2 linked regions of the Homo sapiens genome follow. The protein of the gene in region 2 purifies or fractionates together with the protein of the main gene of each other region. This does not show direct contact. Each region holds a gene or a part of one and is shown on either strand. Other genes may lie near its edges.

Region 1 (3,500 bases), on a different chromosome or scaffold from region 2:
ACAGGCGTGAGCCACCACACCTAGCCATCTTTTTCTTATGACAGTATCACTCTTTTGCCTAGGCTGAAGTGTAGTGGTGCAATCAGGGTTCACTGCAGCCTCAACCTCCCAGGCTCGAGTGATCCTTCCACCTTGGCCTCTCGAGTAGCTGGGACTATAAGCGCACGCCCCCAAGTCTGGGTAATCTTTTTTTTTTTTTTTTTTGAGACAGAGTCTTGCTCTGTTGCCCAGGCTGGAGTGCAGTGGCACAATCTTGGCTCACTGCAAGCTCTGCCTCCCGGGTTCACGCCATTCTCCTGCCTCTGCCTCCCGAGTAGCTGGGACTACAAGCGCCCGCCACCATGCCCAGCTAATTTTTTGTATTTTTAGTAGAGATGGGGTTTCACTGTGTTAGCCAGGATGGCCTCGATCTCCTGACCTCGTGATCCACCTACCTTGGCCTCCCAAAGTGCTGGGATTATAGGCGTGAGCCACTGCACCCGGTTAAGCCTGGCTAATTTTATTTTGTAGAGATAGGGTTTTGCCATGTTGCTCAGGTTGGTCTTGAACTCCTGGGCAAGCACTCCACCTGCCTCGGCCCCTGAAAGTGCTGGGATTACTGGTGTGACTGTGCCCCATCCTCTTTTATGTTTATCCAACTTAGATCCCTTTAGCTGCAACTGAGGCCCCTCCCTTTTGTGTTTTTTTTTGAGATAGGAGTCTCACCACCACACCCTGCTAATCCTTATATTTTTAGTAGAGATGGGGTTTCATCATGTTGGTCAGGCTGGTCTGGAACTCCTGACCTCAGGTGATCCAACTGCCTCAGCCTCCCAAAGTACTGGGATTACAGGCATGAGCCACTGTGCCCGGCCTGGCCCCTCCCCACTTTTTTTTTTTTTTTGAGACAGAGTCTCGCTGTCGCCCAGGCTGGAGTACAGTGGTGCAATCTCGGCTCACTGCAGGCTCCGCCTCCCGGGTTCACACCATTCTCCTGCCTCAGCCTCCCGAGTAGCTGGGACTACAGGCGCCCACCACCATGCCTGGCTAATTTTTTGTATTGTTTAGTAGAGACAGGGTTTCACCGTGTTAGCCAGGATGGTCTCGATCTCCTGACCTCATGATCCGCCCGCCTCAGCCTCCCAAAGTGCTGGGATTACAGGAGTGAGCCACCGCGCCCGGCCAGCCCCTCCCTTTTTTTAAAAAAGGAGATGGGGTCTTGCTATGTTGCCCAGGCTGGCCTCGAACTCCTGGGCTCAAGAAATCCTCCCAAATTAGCCTCTGATGTAGCTGGCACTATACGTACGTGCCACCATGCCTGTCTGCCATTTTGTTTTGACCCAGCGACCATAAGAAGTTTCTTTTTTTTTTTTTTTGAGACGGAGTCTCGCTCTTTCGCCCAGGCTGGAGTGCAATGCTGCTATCTTGGCTCACTGCAAGCTCCATCTCCTGGGTTCACGCCATTCTCCTGTCTCAGCCTCCTGAGTGGCTGGGACTACAGGTGGCCGCCACCGTGCCTGGCTAATTTTTTGTATTTTTAGTAGAGACGGGGTTTCACCGTGTTAGCCAGGATGGTCTCGATCTCCTGACCTCATGATCCGCCCGCCTCGGCCTCCCAAAGTGCTGGGATTACAGGCGTGAGCTACTGCGCCCGGCCGACCATAAGAAGTTTCTAAGTCAGCCTTTTTTTTTCCTTTTCTGAGATGAAGTCTCATTCTGTCACCCAGGCTGCAGTGCAGTGGTATGATCTCGGCTCACTGCAAACTCCGCCTCCTCGGTTCAAGTCATTCTCCTGCCTCAGCCTCTCGAGTAGCTAGGATTACAGGCGTATGCCACCACAACTGGCTAATTTTTGTATTTTTAGTAGAGACGGGGGTTCACCATCTTGGCCAGGCTGGTCTCGAACCCCTGATCTCAGATGAACCGCCCACCTTGGCCCCCAAAGTGCTAGGATTATAGGCGTGAGCCACCGTGCCCAGCTATGTCAGCCTTCTCAGAAGGGACTTCATGCTAAACCTGTGTGTTTCCCGTCCGTCTTCCTTCTTTGTGTACTTGTTTGGTGAGAGAATGATCTAGAACACCCTCATTTCTGATTCCCTTCTAGGCACCGAGATCATTCAACCAAGGAAATCCACTGAGCAGGATAATGCTGCAGCACACACCTCGCTTAGTTCAGGGAAATTGTCCTGCTGACAGAAGGGGCACTGCCACAGCCCTGTCTCATCATTGCGGATCGCCTGGTCATAGCTCTCACCCTGGGGACGCCTGTGGGCAATGCCAGTGACATTGCAGATGATGAGCTTTCCTGCAAGAAGGAAAAGAGGATGGGGAGCAGGCTCAGAGAATGTGGAGAGCACTTCTTTCCACCAGCCTTTCAGTGACAGAATATCTGACTTCCTTCCCATCCTTGAAGAGGGAACTCTTCCCGATTTTTATTTATTTATTTATTTTTGAGATGAAGTCTTGCTCTGTTGCCCAGGCTGCAGTGCAGTGGTGCTATCTTGGCTGACTGTAACCTCTGCCTCCCAGGTTCAAGGAATCCTCCTGCCTCAGCCTCCCGAGTAGCTGGGATTACAGGTGCCCACCACCACGCTCAGCTAATTTTTTATTTTTAGTGGAGATGGGGTTTCACCATGTTGCCCAGACTGGTCTCGAACTCCTGGCCTCAAGCAGTCTGCCTGCCCTGGCCTCCCAAAGTGCTGGGATTACAGGCATGAGCCACTGTGCCTGGCCGTTCCCCTGATTTGATGATAGGGGAAAATAAAGCCTATAAGAAGACTAACTGCATGAAGATTCCATAGCACACTGGAAGCACATTTGACCTTAAATTCAGTTTTGATTTCCAGTCCAGGACTCTTTAGTCTTTTAAAATGCTCTCCTGGCCTTCCCCATGTACAACACAAACCTGCCTCAATCTGTTGGAACTGCTGCTTGGTTTGAATGTACACAGTAAACACACCTCCTGCCCCCAATAAAAAAATGACCCCAGAATTTACCAATGTAGAAGGTCTCTGGTGTTTCTTTGGTTAACATATTGAAGATCTCCTCTGTGTTGGGAGAGCGGTAGGCTGTCCGGAGGTCCTTATATCGACAGCTCAGCTCTGCCCGGATGTCATAGAGTGTGATGTGTTTGTCACCATAGCCCTGGGGAAGAAGCCCATCAAGAAGAGCCTTGCAGCTGCCCCCCAACCTGAGCCTCAAGGAGTCCCGTGGAAGGGGCGGGCCTCTCCAGATGGGAGTAAGTTTCTGTCAGGGCTTCTTCTTTTCTTTCCATCAACATTTACTAAAGGTGGTTTTCAAACTTAGCCATGAAACACTGTAATCAAAATGCTTTATGGAACCCCAATGAGTCCACAGATAAATGCAAAGCTGTGCTGTTAGAAAGGAGGAAAGGGGGCCTAGACGGAAACTGTAGTACTGACATCCTCCCAACTCCCTCCTGCCCCTTGTAATTATGGTGGCAATCTCTGAGACTTCCCTGGCTCCTTAACAAGCAGACCAAAAACTTCCTTGAGGAGCCC
Region 2 (3,500 bases):
AGACTATGCATAATTCTTCATGGCACCTGCTGGGCATTGCTGGGAGATGCTGAAATCATTCATCAATTTTCTCCTTTTTATGCTATTCAATTAGTCTGTCTAGGGCAAGGTCTAGAATGTGTATCAATCAAAAGCATAATAATGACCTGTGTACAAGCTATCTCCATACTAATGATTTGCATCCACTATCTTACAGAAAGAGCTTTGGTCTAAGAAAGCACTGAAGTGCAGGAAACTTTAAGGAGAATATTGTAGTAAGGCCTGAGAATTACCCAGAGTTACTGTTGTCAATAGTGTAATGATGAATTTGAAATCAATTTGGCAGTATCTTTAGTGGAAAAATAATATTAAGAGAATACTCATCACTATAGCCTATTTTGCATTGTCTTAGATAAAATTTTTCTTCAGCCTGCACTGAAAACTTAAATGTCAGTAGACTTTTAGTATATGGACTTCTAGTTTGTTGAAATTATGTGTAGCATGTTTAGTTTTTAATTTAATTCCAATTATTAAGCCAATTAAAACTATTTGGATATAATATTTAAATCAGAATCCAAATACGGCATACATATATTTTTCTTTTAAGAAGTAGTTGTACTATAATACAATATTGGCCTTAAATTTTATCTAACAGTTTATCACGGAAAGTTAAATAATTAATCATCAGAATAGCATTTAGCCAAAAATCCCACGTACCATATACATGGTAGTCTATAGAGCTCTGCAGAAGTGAGTGATTACAGCTACTGTAAAATTTTGTCATTCTATAAAGTAGTTATTGACAAAATAAATGACTGTGTTTTTCCATGTTATATGCAAATTGACAAAGATAATATCTGATAAAATGGAAAACACCAAGAGACTTAGAACTTTAGAATATATCAAACCTACACCAAAATATCATTAGCAACACCCTTTCAGTAGAATCCCACAGCATTAGACAAATTAATAGAGAGAATCTTTTACAAACATTTGTTGCATAAAATATTTTAATTGAAACAATTAATGAATTCCATAAGATACGTGTAAATTTACAAGATTTCCATTTTTCAATACTTACATGAAAAGATGTGATAACAGAGCCACTAAGTATAGGTAAGAAATATTAAACTTGTTTAGCTATTATTCTAAGTTTCTATTCATTTCTCACTAACCTACATTGATTTTTGTACTGCTTTTATTCATCCCATAAATTAGATTCTAACTGGTGATAAAATGTCAAAGTTTGTATCGTTCATCTAAAAAATAAATCTAGACAATTTGGAATTATTTAAAAATTAACCAATAAAGTATGATCCATTGGTTCTTTTGTGAGTGCTTGGGTGGAAAAGGAGACATATTAGTACATTAGTAAGGTGTTTCTTTTTCTTTAATCACCAGGAGAAAAGATATATAAATCTGTTTCTTAAAGCTTTTTTCTTTCCCATGGAGACAACACACCTTAAAATGAAGGTTAACAAGCAATTAATAGCACAGACTTAACTAAATATTGCAAATGTGATAGTATAATATCTTGGTAAATATGGGAATTTTGAGAGCCATAAAATTAAAGACTTTGATATGTGTGAGATCAATAGACATGACTTATCACTATTTAATATGAGCTTTAATTTTTAAATGCCATGTTCCAATGAAAAAGTATATTACACAGGAAAATTGAAATTTCAATAAAGAATCAAGACAAAAGAAACAAACTTTATATTAAAGTACCTTTAAAGGTTGTACTTACGCAGCAACTTCCTCTTTTGATAATCCTTTGAAATTTACCTCTAGATAATGATCTATGTCATCTTTTTCTTTGATCAATTGAGACCTAAATGAAATAGAAAGAAATAATAAAGCACAGCCTTATCAAGTTGAAAAGCTACCAAACACATAAAATGCCACCAGGAGAATAGAAATATTCAGGGTATAATACCATATGTAATAAACGCAATAGCTATAGAGTTAGGTCGTTGGTTGATCATTTCAAAATTTTATCTTTCCTGAATGGAAAATGATAAGGAAGAATATTAAACCCAGTGTGTAAACAAATAAAACACCAACACCTTGAAATAATTCACTTTCTACTCAAGAGTCTTCTCAAAGCTTACAAGACCTTCTATTTTGCTCACATTTTTTCGTGGTGTAACTTTCCAACTGCTGAAGTTATATATTGTTTGGCACAGAATCCTGAGCCAAGAACACCTGTTTGATTCAAATGTGTAACGTGAATTTATTCCAAACATTACTCAATTTTGTCCTGAAATGTTCTTTGAATAGTTTTTTTAATCACACATAAAACTCAAATTATTAAAGGTTCAAGGTGCAAAATGATTTTAAGAAGCCCTTATTGAAAATGTATTATACTTGTAGTGCGTTCATTCTTCACACCCTTTTGCACCTTTAAAAATAAGCATGCTATCAACCTCTCATAACTATGATGATTGATATGGAACTAAACAAATATCAGTGTTTTATTCAGAAGCTATTAAAGAATGTTGATACAAACTTTGCCTTTTGTGGGTATGATAAAAATATTTTTCTTCAATAAAATGAATACAAGAAAACGTTTTCTTTAAAACTCATCCTAACCTAAGGATATGAGATTTGGCTATGCTTTTGCTCACCTTGAAAACAAAATATAAATTAAATCCTTTAAAAAGACAGAAAGAATAAGCTTTTTCAGACTTCATAAATATTTTACATTATTCAAAAGTAAAACAAAAATATGTATGTATATATATTATAGTGTACACACATGAATTATGCATTCATTGAAAGATTTCTCCGCTATAGGAAAAGAAAATTTTGATTTACTATTTTTAAAGAATTTTTATGTTAGTTTAGCTGAATGTATTTATTTTGTTCCAGGGGCTTTGGTATTTCCTAGAAATACTAAAAATGAGGCATGAGAACAAAGAAACCTCCTAATACTTTGATCATTATGCCTTGCAGGAATGGAAAAGTAGGCATATAAAGAAAATAAACCTACGTATGCAAACTATTTATATTGGTAACTAATATGTATGTTACTAAAAGTCAATAGAATTACAAATGGCAATTTCAAAATAGCACAATCAGTTAATATGATAATTATGACAAAATGTATCAATTTCTCTGTCCTGCATTTCCTCAGTGACAATTTGAGTAGCTCAGCAGCCATTCATGGGCAGCAGCAGTTTGATGATGCATTTTCAAGCCCCAGCATCATTTCAGGAGCTGATTCTTGCCTGCCAATCTACCCTACAAGTAAGGCTCTACCCTCCTTCTTCCAAAACAGAAGTCAGCCCTTGGGACCTTGTAGATTAAAAGCATTACACCTTTCAGTCTGGGCATGGCGGCTCATCCCTACAATCCCAGCATTTGGGGAGGCCAAGGCGGGTGAATCACTTGAGGCCAGGAGTTCAAGACCAGCCTGACCAACATGGTGAATCCTGTCTCTACTAAAAATACAAAAACTTAGCTGGGCATAGTGCTGCGTGCCTGTGGTCCCAGCTACTCAGGAGGCTGAGGCACGA

What was found. The genes of interacting proteins can lie anywhere in the genome.
Region 1: the proteins of TTC29 (region 2) and SUPT6H purify together in Homo sapiens (affinity purification with mass spectrometry; 3 studies listed by BioGRID and IntAct, with this or other methods). This does not show direct contact.

The regions. Positions count from the first base shown.
Region 1 is NC_000017.11:28,689,705-28,693,204, reverse strand, and holds part of SUPT6H (transcription elongation factor SPT6), read right to left. Parts: intron 3,124-3,500; coding exon 2,976-3,123; intron 2,285-2,975; coding exon 2,142-2,284; intron 1-2,141.
Region 2 is NC_000004.12:146,935,865-146,939,364, forward strand, and holds part of TTC29 (tetratricopeptide repeat protein 29), read right to left. Parts: intron 1,814-3,500; coding exon 1,730-1,813; intron 1-1,729. UniProt on the Homo sapiens protein: Axonemal protein which is implicated in axonemal and/or peri-axonemal structure assembly and regulates flagellum assembly and beating and therefore sperm motility.